Homo sapiens: one gene and its partners. The protein of the gene in region 3 purifies or fractionates together with the protein of the main gene of each other region. This does not show direct contact. Each region holds a gene or a part of one and is shown on either strand. Other genes may lie near its edges.

Region 1 (3,902 bases), on a different chromosome or scaffold from region 3:
GAGTGTACATTCTAATTGACTTTGGGAGCAGTGTCTCTTGGAAAAGACGTTAATTACCACTCTGCACTGTCCTTTGTGATTACCTATCATTTGCCAAAACTTCCAACCAAGTTCAAATATAAAATGAAACAATTGCCACCTTAAAACCCTTTTCTCTTTCAGGGCCATTGCACCATCATGGGTTTTTTAAAAAGTCTTCTCCACTTACCTTTGATTGTGGACTTCTGCAAGACTCTGTGGCTTTCATTTATTCCTATGCTCACATGAGACTTAGTTCTATCTGTTGGTTTCACTTATCCCTTGTTCTGATGCCCAAATCTATATCCCTAGGTCTAATGCTTCACCCAGGCTGTAAGCCTTCATTCTCTCCTTTTTTTGAGGTCCCAGACTCCAAACCTTATCATCCTGTCTTATACTTACTTCTTAACCACCACACTCTGATTATTCTCCTTAGTGGTGCCTCTCAAATTTCTCTCCCACCTGATTTCTGTGGTGACCACTCAAGTCTGGGTCCTGGCCATCTGGCAGGAATGCCTGACATTTGTCATCTTCCTCATCCAGCTGGACTCCTGCACTGGTCTCCTGACTGTTGTTCCTGCCTCTACTCCTTGCCGGCTTCAGCTTATTCATCACACTGAAGCCACAGCAGTGTTTTCAAAACGTAAATCACACCATGACAAACCCTTCCTCAAAACCAAAGAAGAAACGATCCCAACCTCCTTTCCTGGGCTTATCATGCCCTGCATGACTGGCCAACCCCAAGTTCTTTGACCAGTCTTCTATCTCTCTGTGGCTCTTGCACTCTGCCCTGGACCATTGTAGTAGATTGCCAACTGGTCTTTTCGTCCAAATGTTTTTTCTTAATTCATTTTTTTTTTTTTTTGGTCAATTAGATCAAGCTGGTACTTCTCAGTCTATTAAAGAATAGACCTAATATTTTGTACCTTTATTTACTACTCACTATACCAATGCTCAACTTTAGTAATGTCCCTTTCTTCACCGTCCTATTCCTTCCATTCGTTTCTGCCTCCTCCCCCAACATACATCTTACTGTCATAATACTGTGTACTTCTTCACCTCCATGCCTCTTTCCTCATTGTGTTTTTCCACCTGAAGCACCATTTCCATTCGTTTTAGCACAAAGAAAATAGACTTTGACTTTCCCTTTCCCTGAGTATAGCTTTAAAACCTACCTTGGTTTCTGTCTTTAAATTCTTACATATGAATTGTCTCTGTTTTATGCTAATAAATTCTTTTGCAGTGAACTCTTATTTGCCAGTTGCTTCTAGCGTACTTGTCAATTCTCCAGGTATTTTAAGGCCCTCGAGAGTGGAATAGTGTCTCATGCTTGTCTTCTGGTAAACATACTATTTAATGTAAGACTAGGCAGACAGTAACTGTTGATTACTTGATTGAAAACTTGATGAATGTTACTTAACATTTTTTTCAAGCCTGTGTTTTTGGAATATTTAAGCCTTCTGTTTTTTTTTTTTTTTTCTCTTCTAGAAAGTCATTTTTTAAACAACACTCAACTTTGTGAACCCCTGAAGATTTTTTGACCGTTCCAAGTCTTAATGCCACACCACTATTCCAGCGAATTTATGCTACAACTGGTAACAATGACCAGAAGCCTGAAGAATTAAAATGCCAACACCAAACCTTTCCTTACCAGCTCTGGTCTATATTGCTCCCATGCATTTAATATATTATTTTGTTTTATAACCACTTCTAAATATTCTCAGTTCTTTCTTTTTGTTGTTGTTAATTAAGGGGTTTTGGTTTTGTTTTCTGTTTACTTTGTGTGCAACTACCTGCTTTTAATGACTCACTTTGATCAAATGACAGTGAACAAAGCCAGCCCAAGCTGGTAAGGTGCTGTTCACTTGAACAGGTGCTGTTGCGCAGAAAGGAAACTCTGTGACTAATTTAGATAGTGGCTTTCCTTCTTCTGGATTCTTTTCATTGAATTCTCACAGTAAATATTTACGGAGTTTTCAAATTGCAGCAAATATACTGTATGAGAAAATATTAATACAGATTAAAAGCCTTTCTTACATCTTGAAAATTTTCTAATATTTGAGAATTTCACAGGGATGTTTTTTATATTGGACCCTTTTGACTTTCCAGTCCTGTGACTTTCTACTTTTAGTAGAGAGTCAGAATCTCTGGACTGGAGAATAATGAAGAAGTTCACTGACTGTGCACTGTGCTTAGAGACCCTGCCGCACCACAGTGCCAATGCTTGTCAGACACATGCCCTTCGGCAGCATTCCAGAACAGGAGGGAAGAGAAAGAGAAAACTTTCTTCCCTTCTACTAAAAGATTCAGGCAGCTTAAAACCTTAGTGCTTTCTTTCTTAACATACCCACATTTCAATTCTTTCCATTATTTGAACACTTGGGTAGAACTCTTGCTTTGTATTAAACCTCTTTGTCTACACATGTAAAACTTACCTTTTGTTATTGAGCAGGCCTATCTCTTTCAGATAGTTTTATGATTCACACAGGTTTGAGGATGCTGGGGAGAGGGGGAGGGGGCTGTGGTGGTGTTCTGTTGGTTACAAGAAAGTTATACCATTTAAAGCTGGCACCAGAGACCCGATAGGGACTTATTAACTATATTGAACATTTTTTCCTTTGCCTTTGACCCTATGTATAGTTACGATGCCAGATTAGATTTATAGCAGCCTCAAGTTGTATTAAATGATATTTTGCTTCCTGTAATACTATTATAAAATAAAGTTTGTTTATTCTCTAAACTTGTCACTTCTCTTTTTCTAAAGGGTTAAAAAAACAAACTTGAGTGATATTTTTCATCAGAAGTCTTAGTATTTTGTGAAAAGTAGCATTTCAAAATCTGTTTTCAGCTCTTCTGTAATTTGATGATGCTGCCAACATCACTATTTGAAACGGTGAAAGCGACGTTGAAAGTTTGTAAATCTAATGTTGAGAGTGCCAGATTCCTTCTGCCTGGTTACATAATCCATTCCAGCTTTTACGAATTCTCCGAGGGATATTTTTGCTTGTTTTCTTTGTGCATTTTTCATTTTGTTTTCAGGAAATATTTTAGCTGTACCATCTGAATCTTGCTCCTCTGCTTCATGTCCTTCTTTACTTTGTGTCCACTGGCCCTCTGTATATCAGGCAAACTAGGCCACTGAGGGGCTGCATCCCAGTCTGATTGGGATGCTTTCTTGTGAAACTTTTGTTGGGGCACACCAGGTTATGGTGTTATTATAGAGCAAATAACCAACAGGGTACATTTCTTGTAAAGTGTTATATAGAATTTTTTTCTCTAGTCATTTAAAGTAAGTACATTAAATACAATTTGCATAACTGTCGTCTTTGAGATCTGTTTCCACTAAATTATCTCTCGCCTTGTGAAAGGCCTTTCTCACTTTCTCTATAATTATTACAAAAACAACAACTCCCTGGAGAATCCGATTCAGCAAGCCAAGCCTTAGAAATATTGTGGAACCAAATGTGATTTTGCAAATGTATGCCTCATCAGAAAGTTTGTATAACACTCACATTGAAATCATAGGTTGCGCTTCCCTGGGTGTTTTGAAGACCATATTTGCAGTGACAGGAAGAAAGTTTGTCTTCACAGGTCCCATGGACTAAGAAAGGTGGTGTGCGGGGATTAGGGCTCGGTTTTATTTAGCTGAGACAGCAAGAACAGGGTTTAGGGTCCTGGGGGCATTGAGAGAATCTATGGGAATTAATACCCACAGAGCCACTTGAAACAATGTTTATACTTATTCCCACCTGTAGCTACAGGAGCAAGGCTGTCTTTTAAAAAAATATTTTGTATTATAAAGTATTTCTCTGGCTGTTATAATCTCATCTGGTAAATTGGGCTAAATGATAGAATAAATAGGAAAGTAGATCAAACAAGGTTTT
Region 2 (5,202 bases), on a different chromosome or scaffold from region 3:
ACAGGATGGAGAGTAGTGGTTCTCAGTGTAGGCTACCCACAACTGAATCATCTGGGGTGCTTCTTAAAAATTTAAATCCTGAGACTTATACATCAGAATCCCTGGAGCCTGAGGATTTATATTTTAATAAGCTTCTTAAAGGATTGTTTTATTTCTTAAGATTCTGCTCTTCAACCAGCCAGTCTCATAATTTTAAATGGTTATCCATACCTTTTATTCTTATCTTTGTTTCTTCCTTTTTTCTTAATCTTTTTCTTTCTTTTATTTACTTATTAGAGATGAGGTCTCCCTGTATTGCCCAGGCTGGTCTCGAACTCCTGGGCTCAAGCGATCCATTTGCCTTGGCCTCCCCAAAGTGTTGGGATGTTGGGATTACAGGCGTGAGCCATTGGGCCTGGCTTTTTTTTTTTTTTTAAAGATAGGTCTCACTATGCTGCCCAAACTGAAATGCAGTGGCTATTTACAGATGTGATCATAGTGCACTGCAGCCTTGGACACCTGGCCCCAAACAAGCCTCCCACTTTAGCTTCCCCAGTAGCTGGGGCTACAGCCTTGTGCCACCATGCTCGGCTTTTCCTTATCTATTTTTATGCACTTTAGAAATGGGTATTTTTGGCTCATTGCTTTATATGAATGGTTTTTGTTTTGTTTTGTTTTTAAGTAAAACAATGTTGAGTCATTTCAGAAAGACCTATAGTCACAAGACAGTATTTTAAAAAGCTATTAAGGGTAAAAATTCAATGCTAAACATAATCTTATGTATTTCACTTAAGATATTTTGAAATAGTTCTTACTGTTACTCATATTGATTAGCTTAATTTTTTTCTTTTTTTTTTTCTTTTAAGATGGAGTCTTGCTCTGTCACCCAGACTGGAGTGCAGTGGCACAATCTCGGCTCACTGCAACCTCCACCTCCCAGGTTCAAGCGATTCTCCTGCCTCACCCTCCCAAATAGCTGGGATTACAGGCACGTGCCACCACGCCCAGCTCATTTTTTTGTATTTTTGGTAGAGATGTGGTTTCGTGATGTTGGCCAGGCTGGTCTCAAACTCCTGACCTCAAGTGATCCACCTGCCTTGGCCTCCCAAAGTGCTGGGATTGTAGATGTGAGCCACTGCGTCCAGCCTACTTGCTTAATTTTTAAACATTCTAAAGATTGTTTGTTTGTTTTTTGAGATAGGGTCCTGCTCTGTCTCCCAGACTGGAATGCAGTGGTGTGATCATGGCTCACTGCAGCCTCTACCTCCTGAGCTCAGGCCATCCTCCCAATTAGCTGAGATCACAAGCAAGCACCACCAGCTAGTTTTGTAGGGACGGGGTTTCGCCATGTTGCCAAGGCTGGTCTGGAACTCCTGGGCTCAAGTGATCCACCCACCTTGGCCTCCCAAAGTGCTGGGATTATAGGCATGAGCCACAGTGCCCGGCCTATTCTGGAATTTTTAGTTAAATCAGGAACACATGAAAAAGAAGCATAAATATTGAAATTAGCATTATTCATGAAGAATGAGAACTAATAAGGAACTTAAATTAGGCACAGGCAAAATGTAAATTAAATATACAAAAGTCAATAGTTCTGGCCGGGCACGATGGCTCATGCCTGTAATCCCAGCACTTTGGGAGGCCAAGGCAGGCGGATCGCCTGAGGTCAGGGGTTCGAGACCAGCCTGGCCAACCAACATGGTGAAACCCCATCTCTACTAAAAATACAAAAATTAGCCGGGCATGGTGGCGTGCACCTGTAATCCCAGCTACTCAGGAGGCTGAGGTGGGAGAACCCGGGAGGCAGAGGTTGCAGTGAGCCGAGATCACGCTACTGCACTCCAGCTTGGGCGACAGAGCGAGACTCCATCTTAAAAAAAAAAAAAATTTAATAGTCCTAAAGCCTAATCCATTGATTATGTAATGAGGAGAAAAGATGATTACAGTAATGCAAAATAGAAATTGTATACAAAATATATAATAAGAAATAAGTTGGTCATACTAAGAAATATGACCAACTTCTATGATAAATAATGTAAGACAGGGACATAAAAGTTGCATGTAATGGAAAAAACATATCTTATTGCTAGATAGAAGAACAAGAACAGTACCAGCACTTAGGGAGGCAAAGCCAGGATGATCACTTGAGCCCACGAGTTTGAGACCAGCCTGAGCAACGTAGTGAAACTTCATCTCTACCAAAAAATTTTAAAAATAAGCAGAGTATGATGGTGGACACCTGTGGTCCTAGCTACTCAAGAGGCTGAGACAGGAGGATCACTTGAGCCCAGGAGGCCGAGGCTGCAGTGAGCCCTAACTGCACTACCTCACTCCAGCCTGGGCGACAGAACCAAGACCCTGTCCCCCCCCAAAAAAAAAAGATGTTGGGAAGACTTTACTCCTCATAGTTAACAAATTTATTGCAAATTAATTAAAAATCAATGCAAATAGAATAGTAGGAGAACTTAGTAAAACAGTTTATCTTTAAAATAAACATGGAAGTGTGGCTGGACATATTTGAAAAATAAAAGTAATGGGTTTACTGACATGATAATAAAATGTAGCAATGCAGGAAAAAAGAAAGAGATGAATAGAAAGCAATAGGCAGGCAGAAACAGATCCGAGTATAAATAAGAATTTATCCTGGGTGCAGTGGTTCATGCCTGAAACCCTAACATTTTGCGAGTTCAAGATGGAAGCCAGGGATTTGAGACTAGCCTGGGCAACATACCAGGACCCTGTCTCTAAAAAAATTAAAAATTAGTTGGGCGTGATGTGTGCGCCTATCAGCTTGAGAGGCTGAAGCTAGAGGATTGCTTGAGCCCAGGAGGTTAAGGTGGCAGCAAGCTGTGATTGCGGCCCTGCACACTAGCCTAGGCAACAGAGCAAGAATTCATCTTAAAAGAATTTAGTAGATGATAAAGGTATTATTTTAAATTAGTGGAGAGAAGGCTGTCTGTTCCAATTAATAATGTTGCCTGATCATTTGGAGAAAGTCACTCTAGATTCTTTCCCTCATACTGAGCACCAAAAAATATATAAATTTTAAATAGATTAAAATGTTAAAAATTTTGAAGTATGTGTTTATTAAAAGAAAGAGGTGTATTTACATAAAGTTATGACAAATGACAAGTCCTAAGAGTTTGCATTTAAGTTTTATCAACTAAAATTGCTGAATTTCACAAAATTAAAATTCCTAGAATTTTAAGTGTGATAAGATTGTGAAGATAGCTCAAGGGAGTGTGTCTATAATATGCAGAAATCACTTCTGGATTTATTCCTAATAATGTATCCAGTATCACAGTATCACCTGTATTTCCCTGTTTATAACAAAACTGGCATCATGATGATTAGTAGGCCTTAATAGTGAAAAGGCTTTTTAAGTACACAACAAATGTTTCTGTACTTGCTCCGATTGCCCCATTGCTTGTACTTCTGTAGTACTTGTGAGCCATAGGATCTTTTCTCAAAAGCCTTGATAAAGAAGTTTTATAAACTTATAAGATGATTTAATGTAGTACCATAAAATTAACTGTAGCAGTAGGCTTTTTCAGGAAGACATGTGAAATAAAAAAAATTAGCAAGGTGTGGTAGCGCACATCTATAGTCCTAGCTACTCAAGAGGCTGAGGCAGGAAGATCATTGGGTCCCAGGAGTTAGAAGTTGCAGCGAGCTGTGATTGCGCCACTGCACTCCAGCCAGAGCAACAGAACAAGACCCTATCCTGTCCCTAAAAAACAAAAAACAAAATGTGTTTTATAAGTGATTATAAAATGTTTTTTTCATAGGCCAAAACTTACATAAACCATGATTTCCCATTATAATCCAGTGGAAAAATTGTAATGCTTCTATTAGTGGTAACTTAATTTTGAAATGTTAAGTAGATTGTGCCTGTGTCGGTTTCTGGGTTTTGATAAATGATCATTTATTTGGCTAACTTTGCCATTAATGGCTGAAATGGTATTGCACATTTGTAAGTGCATACTTTAGATAATCATAAATTGGGGAAATATTACTAATAAATTATCCCTGAATCATCTAGGTACATAATAATGCATTGTCAGCACTCACCAGTTGTTTGACACCTGCAAATATGCACAGATGGACAGTAACATTTGCAGCATATTTGGGGGATTTTTTTACGTGAAATGAGCATTTTTTTTAAGCAAAACATTATATTTTGGAATAATTATGAGATGTGAGTGCCTAAGCAGAGATGTACAGCAAACATTATCAGGACAGAAAGCATGATGGGAGCACCCGATGTTACATTCTTCAGTTCATGCTGTGACCAGGCGACCTCATAAAAGGAAAAATATAATGTATAAGTACAAACCCCATTTTTTGTTTTGGCTCTTTTATATTTGTATTTTTTGAGACAGAGTCTAGTTTTGTCACCCAGGCTGGATGCAGTGGACCGATCTCGGCTCACTACAACCTCTGCCTCCCAGGCTCAAGCAATCCACCCACTTCAGCCCCCTGAGTAGCTGGGGTTACAGGCATGTGCCACCACACCTGGCTAATTTTTGTATTTTTTTTGTAGAGACAGGCTTTCGCCATGTTGTTCAGGCTGGTCTCGAACTCCTGAGCTCAAGCGATCTGCCCATCTCAGCCTCCCAAATTGCTGGGATTATAGGTGTGAGCAACCGCGCCCAGCCAAACCCCATATTAAGCAAAAACTTGCCAAGAGATCTTTTAAAAGGCAAGGAATGAGTATGGCTACTGTGTAATTATCTGAAGGGTTTTTTTTGTTTGTTTTTTGGTTTTGTTTGTTTGTTTTTTTGCTGGCCTTTTAGTTTTTATGTTTAATTACCCAAGCCCCTAAAGCATTAAAGAACTTCACCTATCTAACTTTGTAGTTCTTTTACTTTATTTATTTATTTATTTATTTATTTATTTATTTATGAGACAGGGCCTTGCTCTGTCACCTAGGCTAGAGTGCAGTGGCACAATCTCGGCTCACTGCAGCTTCTGCCTCCCGGGTTCAAGCTATCCCATCTCAGCCTCCTGAGTAGCTGGGAACACAGGCACGCGCCACCACGCCTGGCTAATTTTTGTATTTTCAGTAGAGACAGGGTTTCGCCATGTTGCCTAGGCTGGTCTTGAAATCCTGGGCTCAAGCGATCCTCCTGCTTCAGCCTCCCAAAGGACTAGGATTACAGGCATATGCCACTGCGCCCGGCCCTTTACTTTCTTATAATAGAAATTTAATGGAGTTAATAC
Region 3 (5,202 bases):
TTGTGGTCTTGCAGTCTCTGTGGAGAAAAGGTGAAATTACAAAGTTAACATGTGGATGGTTTACAGATTGATTTGTTGTTTGGTTAAAATATAAACATGTTGAATCTTATTGAATTATGTTGTATATGATATCATTATAGAATGGTTATCCATGTGCCTCTTTTGAGAAACTAGCTGTTAAAGGCTTATCTTAAATAATTGGATTGCATTAGAGACTGAGTCTTATAAGCAATGTTTTAGGGGGAGCTTTTGTTTCTAGTTTACTTTATTGGTACCAAAGGGTTAAACTAACAGGTGCTGTATTAAAATAAAGTCATGTTTGATACTCTGCATTTCCTACAGCGTTGGTTTCAGGTTGATTTTCTCTTTCCCTATAGAATTGGAGCTATTTCCCCCCACCTCCCACTTTTTATTATCAAACAATTTCAAGCATACAGAAAATTTGGTAATAGTAAACCACTTGTATCTTGACCCTCTAGATTAAACATTTGTTGTTATCTTGCCATATTTGCTTTATCTATAGGTACATGTACAGGCATACCTTAGAGAGATTGTGGCTTTGGTTCCAGACCACTGCAATAAAGGAAAAGAAGTGAGTCACATAAACTTTTTAGTTTCACGGTGCATATAGTTATGTTTACAATATACTGTAGTCTATTGTGTGCAATGGCATTATGTCTAAAAAAAGTATATACCTTAATTAAAAAATTATTTATTGCTAAAAATTTCTAAAGAAATTTGAGCCTTTAGGGAATTGTAATCTTTTTGCTGGTGGAGGGTCTTGCCTCCATGTTGATGGCTGCTGACTAGTAAGGATGGTTGATAAGGGGTGGTTGTTGAAGTTTGGGATGGCTGAGGCAATTTCTTAAAGTAAGACATTAGTGAAGTTTGCCGCATCGATGGACTCTTCCTTTCAGGAAAGATTTCACTCTGGCATGTGATACTGTTTGATAACATTTTACTCACCATAGAACATTTTTCAAAATTGGAGTCAGTCCTTTCAAACCCTTCATCAACTAATTGCTTATCACCTATCATCTAAGTTGCTTATCGTTGCTTTATCAACTAAGTTTTTGTAATCTAAGTCCTTTGTTGCTACTTCAATAATATTCACATCATCTTCACTAGGAGTAGATTCCATCTCAAGAAGCCACTTTCTGTCCAGGCGTAATGGGGTCACGCTTATAATCCCAGCAGTTTGGGAGGCTGAGGCAGGAGGATTGCTTGCGCCAAGGAATTCAAGAACAGCGTGGGCAACATGGCAAAATCCCATTAAAAAAATATAGAGGTTAGCCGGTTGTGGTGATTTGGGAAGCTGAAGCAGGGAGAGTGCTTGAGCCGGGGAGGGGAGGTCAGGGCTGCAGTGAGCTGTGGCAGTGCAGACCAGCCTGGGCAACAGAGCAAGACCCTGTCTTAAAAAAAAAAAAAGGCCACTTTGTTTCCTCATCCATAAGAAGCAACTTTTCATCTGTTCAAGTTTTAGCTCTGCTTCTAATTGTAGTTCTCTTGCTCTTTCCGTCACATCTACAGTTACTTCCTCCACTGAAGTCTTAAACCCCTCAAAGTCATCCATGAGGGCTGGAATCAGCTTCTTCCAAATTCCTGTTAATGTTGATATTTTGACCTCCTCCCATGAATCATCAGTGTTCTTAATGGCATCTAGAATGATGAATCCTTTCCAGAAGGTTTTCAATTTACTTTGCTCAGATCTGTCAGAAGAATCTGATCACTGTCTATGGTAGTTATAGCCTTACAAAATGTATTTCGTTTGTTTTTCTTTTTTTAGTTTCACAGTGCGTATAAAGTTATGTTTACAATATACTGTAGTCTGTTAAGTGTGCAATGACATTCTAAAAAAGCAATATATATATATATATATATATCAATTAAAAATTATTTGTTGGCCGGGCACGGTGGCTCACGCCTGTAATCCCAGCACTTTGGGAGGCCGAGGCGGGCAGATCACGAGGTCAGGAGATCAAGACCATCCTGGCTAACAGGATGAAACCCCGTCTTTACTAAAAATACAAAACAAACAAACAAACAAAAAAAACCACTAGCCGGGCATGGTGGCGGGTGCCTGTAGTCCCAGCTACTCGGGAGGCTGAGGCAGGAGAATGGCGTGAACCCGGGAGGTGGAGCTTGCGGTGAGCAGAGATGGCGCCACTGCACTCCAGTCTGGGTGACAGAGCGAGACTCCATCTCAAAAAAAAAAAAAAAAATTATTTGTTGCCAAAAAAATGCTAGAAGAACATCTGAGCCTGGCTCAGGCTAGCCTAATTTTTTTATTTTTATTTCTATTTTTAGAGTTAGCATCTCAATGTGTTGCTCAGGCTGGTTGCAAACTCTTTGCCTCAGATGGTCCTCCCACTTTGGCCTCCCAAAATGTTGAGATTACAGGCATGAGCCACTGTCCTGGCTGTATTTCTTAAATTAGGAAATGCATCCAAGTTGGAAAAGTCAAAATACCCTATTCCCTGATGACATGATCTCTGTCATATTTAGAAAAACCTAAGGATGCCACCAAAAACCTCTTGAATTTGACAAATAATCCAGTAAAGTGTCAATACAAAATCAGTGTACAAAAATGAGGAGCATTTCTATACACCAATGACGATCCAACTGAAAACTAAATCAAGAAAGCAATCTTCAAAAAAAGAAAAAATCCACCTAGAAATGTATTTAACCAAGGAGGTAACAGATCTCTATAAGGAGAACTACAAAGTCCTGATGTAAGAAATTCTAGATGACACAGACAAACGGAAAAACATCCCATACTCGTTGATTGGAAGAATCAGTTTTGTCAAAGTGACCATACAACCTGATATGGGTTGTTTATTTGTCTCCTCCAAGTCTCATGTTGAAATGCAATCCCCAGTGTTGGAAGTGGGGCCTGGTGGGAGGTGACTGGATCATGGGGGTGGGTGCCTCATGAATGGCTTAGCAGCGTCCCCTTGATGATGAGCAAGTTCATGTGAGATCTGGTTGTTTAAAAATGTGTGGCATCTCTCCACTCTCTCACTTGCTCCTGCTCTTGCCAAGTGAGGTCCTTGCTCCCACTTTGCCTTATGTCATGAGACCTCACCAGAGGCCAAGCAGGTGCCAGCACCATGCTTCCAGTCCAGCTTGCTGAACCGTGAGCCAATTAAACCTCTCTTCTTTATAAATTACCAAGCCTGAGGTTTTTCTTAAGAGCAATGCAAGAATGGCCTAATACACTACTCAAAGCAATCTGCAGATTGAAGGCAACCCCTATCAATATACCGACATCTGCTGGGTAGAGTGGCTCATGCCTGTAATCCCAGCACTTGGGGAGGCCAAGGCAGGCGGATCACCTGAGGTCAGGAGTTTAAGACCAGCCTGACCAACATGGTGAAACCCTGTCTCTACTAAAAATACAAAAATTAGTGGGACGAGGTGCCAGTAGTCCCAGATACTTGGGAGGCTGAGGCAGGAGAACTGCTTGAACCCAAGAGATGGAGGCTGCAGTAAGCCAAGATCGTGCTGCTGCACTTCATCCTGGGCAATAGAGTGAGTCAATTTGTAAGAAAACACATTATTATCTGTGAAGCACAATGAAAAGTGAAATAAAACAAGGTATACCTCTACTGAAAGAAGAAAACTATCAAACTAGAATTCTAGATCCTGGAACTATGTATTTCAAAAATAAAGGAGAAATAAACACTTCCAGATATCTTTTTTTAAAAAACACTATGAAGCAGAATAAAATGAAGCTCAATAAAATGAGATATACTTGTATATTATTTTCAGCTGAACTCTTTGAAACTAAGCTATGGACATTATGACATTTTACCTCTCAATATGTCACATGCATCTCCTAAAGTTAAGGACATTTTCTTACATAGCCAAAATACCATTATTGTTACTTTTCTTAGGTGCGATACTTCTTTCATATACTCTAATATATATCCATATTTACATCTCATTCGTACTGAATTGTCATTTGTGGTTTGTACACCCATCCCCACCAAATCAGGATTTCATCAAAGTTTATTCATTGCATTTAGTTGTTAAGGCTTTTTGATCTCTTATAGTCTACAGCAGTCTCACCTCTTACACCCTTTAAAAATGACAATGATTTTTTTTAAGAGATCAAGACAGTTGTCTTATAAAGTGACTCATATTCTCGATTTGTCAGATTCCACCCCCCTCCCCCCGTCATAGCATTGTTTAGCTTGTTCCTGTATTCCCCCATACCAGTTGTTAAGTGTAAACTAGATTTAAAGGGTCGATTAGTTTTAATTTCAACATTTTGGACAAGAATACCTAATAAGTGATTTAATATATTTTATATGCCTCCCATTAGGAGACGTACACTGTGCAGTCCCATTATTTGTGATACTAAGTTTGATTGCTTGGTTGAGAGGAGTAAGGTGAGGTATATTTTTCTCACTGCAGTCAGCAAGTAATCTGTGGCATGATAAATTAGCACTGTAATGCTAGCCTGTTCTCCAGTGATCTTTTACCTAATAGTTGTGGTATCTTTTGCTGATCCTTGTCAGGCTAACTTTTAAATTTCAGTGTTAATAAATGTTTGTTGGTCTATAGATGGAAACAAATCACAGGAATTAAAAAATATCCAGCTAGGTTAATCAGAATCTGATTTTGTGGATTTTAAAGATTTTAACAAAGTATTCAAAGTATCGTTTGTTACGAATTTTATAAGAAACCTGGCTTGAAAAATGGGAATAACTCAATGCTGGTCTTCTGTACTCTTAAGAAGTGCATTTAAATTTTTCTTAGATAACATCTACTGCACAAGAATAACCCAGAAATACAATATAAAGGAAGGGTGGATCTACTAAAATACATTTTGAGAAAATTGTCTATTTTCTGATGTAATGGGAGGAACACTGGATTGAGAGTCAGAAGATCATTCCTACCATTATATGAAGTTTAAGAATTACAAATTTTTGAGCTGGGCTGTGTGGTGCATGCCTCAACTACTCAGGAGGTTAAGGCAGGAGAATCCCTTTAGCCCAGGAGTTGGAGGGCATCCTGGGCAACATAGCAAGACCCTGTATCAAAAATCAGGAAAAAAAGAAGGATAAATTTTTAAACTTTACTGCATGTTCTTATTTCATAGTGATTGCTTTAGTAAACATTTATGAATAAAGAATGAATTTCTGATGAGATATGTTTGTAGTGAACTTCATTTTTATGAAGCCAGTTATAAGTAAA
Region 4 (5,202 bases), on a different chromosome or scaffold from region 3:
TTGAAGCCATCCCCCCACCACTGAAATCTCGTTTCTTTTCCCTTCTGTCCCCAGTGGTAGCCACTATTCAGAAACTGGCGTGTGTCCATCACACAGACTTTTATACCCCTTACTGCCCGTTAGTGTATGTATCCATAAGCAATATTCAACATAGTTTTTGTTTTTTTTTTTTAAAGTTTTACATAAATGGTGTCATACTCTGTATGTTGAAGAATGTTCAAATGGTTATTTTGAGGTGAAAAGGAAATCAATGTCAATTTACTGTGAATGGCCACACATGATTATTTTCATTTTCATGAGGGTATGTATTTCAAAATTAAAACTTTCCTTCCTCCCTAACCTGGAAAGTTGGGCAGCATGGCACAACTGCACTAGTTTAGAGCTTTTGTGACTGTGTTTTAATTTTGAGATTTATTTAGTGGGCTCATATTGAAGTTTCTTCATCTTTTGCTTTGCAGAGGGCCATATCATTCGAGGGAGCAGAGCACTGACAGTGGCCTGGGGTTAGGGTGCTACAGTGTCCCCACAACTCCGGAGGACTTCCTCAGCAATGTGGATGAGATGGATACAGGTAGGAGCAAAGCCTGCAAGCACTTACAATGGGTTTGTGTTTTTTAAATGATCTCTTCGGTTATCTCAATTTTATTTTTCTTTTATTTTATTTTTATAATTTCAACTTTTATTTTATATTTGGGGGTACATGTGCAGGTTTGCTACATGGTTATGTGATGCCGGGGTTTGGGATACGATTGCTCTCGTCACCCAGGTAGTGAGCATAGTACCCAATAGTTTGTTTTTCACCCCTTGTTCCTCCCCACTCCCAGTAGTCCCGAGTGTCTGTAAAAATGTTGAAAAAAAAAAAAATGGAATGCTTCATGAATTTACATGTCATTCTCATGCAGGGGCCATGCTAATCATTCCAGTTTTAGTATAGGTGCTGCCAGAGCGAGTACGGTCATCTCAATTTTAAAATCCAACCAGAAACACTCAATCTCAACGACAACATAAAATAACAGCTGAAAAGCCACTGAACCCCCAGGCACTATTAATAAACTGTAGCCCCTTCCTCATAGATTATACAAGTATAGTTTTACATCTGGGCGCAGGATTTTAAATTCTGTTGTTTTTTTTTTTTAATTCATCTTTGCTCCATATAGTCCCTTCCTCACAATTGCATCAAGACACCACTGTTTGTTTGCCATGTTTCCACATTGGGGTATTTATGCTGTTCTAGTTTTTAGTTGTAATATATGGGCCACCCTTTCTCCTGGAAAGTGACACTGGTTTATAGTTCTAGTATCCAATTTTTTTCATGTCATTCACTGCATTTGAAAAGCAATTGGCAGTGGGTATTTGGAATGCTGAGCAACTCAGAGGATTCAAAATTGTCACTTCCAAGTTCCAACATGGTAACGACATCCTCCCTCAGGAATTAAAGAGAAGAGAGTCAGGGTTACTCTTACCTTGTCCCCAGCCTGTGCATCCTTCAGGTCCAGCCTCACCAGGCTTCCCGATTACCTTTCTTTTTCTCCTTTTCTCAAGGAGTGAGACTTCCAATTGCAGAAACTGAAGTTAGTCTTATTAGCCTTACCTAGACTTAATTATGAAAGTCATAAACTCTAAGAAGATATTCTAGAACCAAAAATAAATGACAGCCAGGGTGTCCACTATTTGGAGTTATTCATGAAAGTTCCTTCTCCATTATCATTGACGAAAGTAATTGTTTTGTGTTGAAAATAAAAAATTCCTTCCCCCAAAGTGTTTGCCATAGTGCCTGTAGTTTTTTACACTCTACTCTTTGATGGCTTCTCTTTGTGTTGTGAGTCTAAATTGTTGGAAAGATCAAGAGTCAAACTCATAGCCAGGTGTCTTACAAATGCAGTACATTAAAGCTGCTCCCCTGGCGTCTTTCGTGTAGGTTGTCATCTTTGCATTGAGAAGATTGCAAAGACTATCTTGTGAGGAGTGACACAGGAATAGTTTGCACTGATTGTTTTACTGTTCTTCAGTTTATTACTTCAGTTCTTCCCCCACCACCACCCCCTGCCACCTTTATCTCTCTCTCTGCTTTTTGAGTGTGAGATTTATTTTGCTATCTTTGGAATAGCCTTAGGAAGTGGCTCCTTCCTATGTTTAATAATTCTTTACTTTCATCTTCTAAACACTGGGAAGCCAGTAAGGATAAAAAGCAAAGTTAAGGAAAAAAGCTCAGGAGATCTAAATCTAAGTTTGACATTCAAAAAAAAAAAAAAAAAACCATAAAAGAGGATGGATTCTACTCTATGTCTCTTTAAAATAACCTCAAGTGGGTAAGTAGGGAGTGTTTTATTTTGAAGCCGTAATGTGGAATTAAATGACGTCCTGAAAAGAACATAGTTTTAGCCAACAGGCAGCCTGATTTGAATCCTTGCTTCTCCATTCCTAGTAGCGCCTTTGGGTAAGTTGCATAACCTCCGTGAGCCTCAGATTTCTCACCCATAAAGTGGGAGTGATATGCTCACGGCAGAGTTGTGAGGAGTCATGAGATCACAGAGACCAGCTCAAAGTGCTCTTCTCCAGTAAGAAGACTGATGTCATACATACAATGGACTTGATAATGTCAGAGTGCCACGTTAACCTGGTTAAGTGAGAATCAGCTCATTGAGTGTGGGAATGTGAGTGCCAAGTTAACCTGGTTAAGTTAGAGTCAGCTCATTGAGTGTGGGGCCACCTCTGTGAAGTCTTTGTAGGAACTGGACATACATCTTCTCAAGGGGAGAAATGTTAATTATACAGTAGCAAAATGAGGGAAGCTGTGGGGGCAGGCAGAGCTCAAGTGTGGCTAGAAAAGATCTATCAGGCCTGTGGACCACGCGCTGGCCACATGCTGAAGGGAAACGAGCCAGCTGAGCACTCCATTTGCAAAACATACATGGCAGCAACAGCTGGGCTTGGTGCGAAGATCCAGTAAAGGGAATAACATGAGCAAAGGCTGGGAAATCATCCATCCTTCCAGAATATTCTGCAGTAATCACACCCTTTTAAGAATTGCCTTGTGGCTGGGCACGGTGGTTCACACCTGTAATCCCAGCACTTTGGTAGGCCGAGGTGGGTGGATCACCTGAGGTTGGGAGTTCAAGACCAGCCTGACCAACATGGAGAAATCTTGTGTCTACTAAGAATACAAAATTAGCTGGGCGTGGTGGCACATGCCTGTGATCCCAGCCACTCGGGAAGCTGAGGCAGGAGAATCACTTGAACCCAGGAGGCGGAGGTTGCAGTGAGCCGAGATTGTGCCATTGCACTCTAGCTTGGGCAGCAAGAGCGAAACTCCATCTCAAAAAAAAAAAAAAGAATTGCCTTGTGTTTGTCTCTTCCACTTTTTAAGTGGATAAACTGCAAAGACCAAAAAGATTACTATGAGATTGCAGAGCTGCTTCTATTTTAAGATTGTTAACTTTAATGAAGAAGCTTAGCCAGTATCCTCATGCCTTCCATCCTGAGAAGAAAGGATAAGAGTAATTTTTTTTTTTTTTTTTAATACGGGGTCTCATTCTGTCACCCAGGCTGGAGTGCAGTGGTGTGATCTCAGCTCATTGCAACCTCTACCTCCTGGATTCAAACGAGTCTCGGGCCTCAGCCTCCTGAGTAGCTGGGATTACAGGGGTGCGCCACCATGCCTGGCACTGTTTTTTTGGGGTTTTTTTGTTTGTTTGTTTGTTGTATTTTTAGTAGAGACAGGGTTTCACCATGTTGGCAAGGCTGTTCTTGAACTCCTGACCTCAGGTGATCCACCCACCTCGGCCTCCCAAAGTGCTGGGATTACAGGCATGAGCCACCACACCCGGCCTAGGAATTCTTTAAAACAGAGATTTTGCTTGGCTAAAAATTATATTCTTGAGTATCTGAAAGTTAAAATGGGAAATTAGTAAAAATGAATGATTCTAACTGGAGATGAAGAGAAAAAAAGGCATCCAGCACATTAGATCAGATTGTTTTTTAGACACTTTTTAAAGCCTCATTTTTATCTGTTACACTCTAGTAAGTAGAAGAAAGTTATTTTGGATTTTGTTTTTTCGTTTAACGTTATTTTTCAATATCAGTAACACTATATTGAGGTCATATTGTTGAATTTGATTTAATTTTTCAGTTTACTACCCTTTGCAATGAAAATACTGTAAAATGTTACCCAGGAGTCATTTATATTTTGTGACTTCTAGAAAAGCCATTGTGTTTTGCTATCACCAAAATCCAAATTGGATGATGGTTCCTTCATCATTTGGAAGGATATAATTTTTCTCCCTGGAAAACACAGATTGCTAAAGTGAACTTTCGGCAATTTTGCTTAAAATAGTGAAACTTCCCTACACACGTTTCAGGAAGGCTACTGCACTTGTAACACACAAAAGATAATTTAACAAGTTTTTAAAAAATGACGTTATGGTGGAAGCTGGCCTTAGTTATCAATGCTTCTCAATTTTTGAAGTAGATATTATCTCTTCAGAAAATTGTTTGGGACTTTTTGAATTAACCTGTTGTTTTGATATTGTGTAATTAATAGTGGCTGAAGACCTGGGTTTTTCTTTCTCTCAGGACAATGAACATTTATTATATTTTTGTATGTATATAACTTTGTATATATCAATGACACCCAGAGCCATGGATATGTGGCAGACACTATATGGCACTTTACTCTAACTTTTGTAAAAGGAGCATATGATCCCAATTTCTAGATGGGTAAACTGAGAATCAGGCAGGTTAAGTGTGTCTAAGCTTACACAGCCACAAAGCTCGATCTAATGACACCAAAGTCAGTAGTGCATTCTGTCCCATACTATGACACATAAAGAACCTATATTCTTCATGTCATATCCCAGACACCTACTTTTCCTCTAGTACAGCATTTTCTCACCTGTGTTCTGTAGAACTTCAGTTTTATTTGAATACACATACTGCCAAAATAGGTTTAGGTGATTAAATGGGTTTAGGAAATAGTGTCTTAAAGAAAACAAAAGATTTCTTTACTCTAAGACTTAAAGCCTTAACATGCTCATATGCACTGTGCTCATATGCTTGTGAGAAAGGCAGATAGTTGTAGGGTGTAGGTATTACAGAAAGAGGGAAAACGTCTGCAGAACTGCCTTTATAAATGATGCCTAAAGTCATCAATGAAGACAACTTTTTAATAGCCTGGTTAAAAGAAGCTTCACACCATTCTCTTTG

Evidence for each region. The genes of interacting proteins can lie anywhere in the genome.
Region 1: the proteins of MAP3K2 (region 3) and EPB41L2 purify together in Homo sapiens (affinity purification with mass spectrometry; one large-scale study listed by BioGRID and IntAct). This does not show direct contact.
Region 2: the proteins of MAP3K2 (region 3) and LSM14A purify together in Homo sapiens (affinity purification with mass spectrometry; one large-scale study listed by BioGRID and IntAct). This does not show direct contact.
Region 4: the proteins of MAP3K2 (region 3) and WWTR1 purify together in Homo sapiens (affinity purification with western blotting, with the first as the bait; one study listed by BioGRID). This does not show direct contact.

Annotation. Positions count from the first base shown.
Region 1 is NC_000006.12:130,838,203-130,842,104, reverse strand, and holds the end of EPB41L2 (band 4.1-like protein 2), read left to right. Parts: intron 1-1,506; 3' UTR 1,507-2,758; downstream 2,759-3,902. UniProt on the Homo sapiens protein: Required for dynein-dynactin complex and NUMA1 recruitment at the mitotic cell cortex during anaphase.
Region 2 is NC_000019.10:34,209,446-34,214,647, forward strand, and holds part of LSM14A (protein LSM14 homolog A), read left to right. Parts: intron 1-5,202. UniProt on the Homo sapiens protein: Essential for formation of P-bodies, cytoplasmic structures that provide storage sites for translationally inactive mRNAs and protect them from degradation. Acts as a repressor of mRNA translation. May play a role in mitotic spindle assembly.
Region 3 is NC_000002.12:127,380,895-127,386,096, reverse strand, and holds part of MAP3K2 (mitogen-activated protein kinase kinase kinase 2), read left to right. Parts: exon of another isoform or gene 1-592; intron 593-5,202. UniProt on the Homo sapiens protein: Component of a protein kinase signal transduction cascade. Regulates the JNK and ERK5 pathways by phosphorylating and activating MAP2K5 and MAP2K7. Plays a role in caveolae kiss-and-run dynamics.
Region 4 is NC_000003.12:149,521,382-149,526,583, reverse strand, and holds part of WWTR1 (WW domain-containing transcription regulator protein 1), read left to right. Parts: intron 1-458; coding exon 459-571; intron 572-5,202. UniProt on the Homo sapiens protein: Transcriptional coactivator which acts as a downstream regulatory target in the Hippo signaling pathway that plays a pivotal role in organ size control and tumor suppression by restricting proliferation and promoting apoptosis.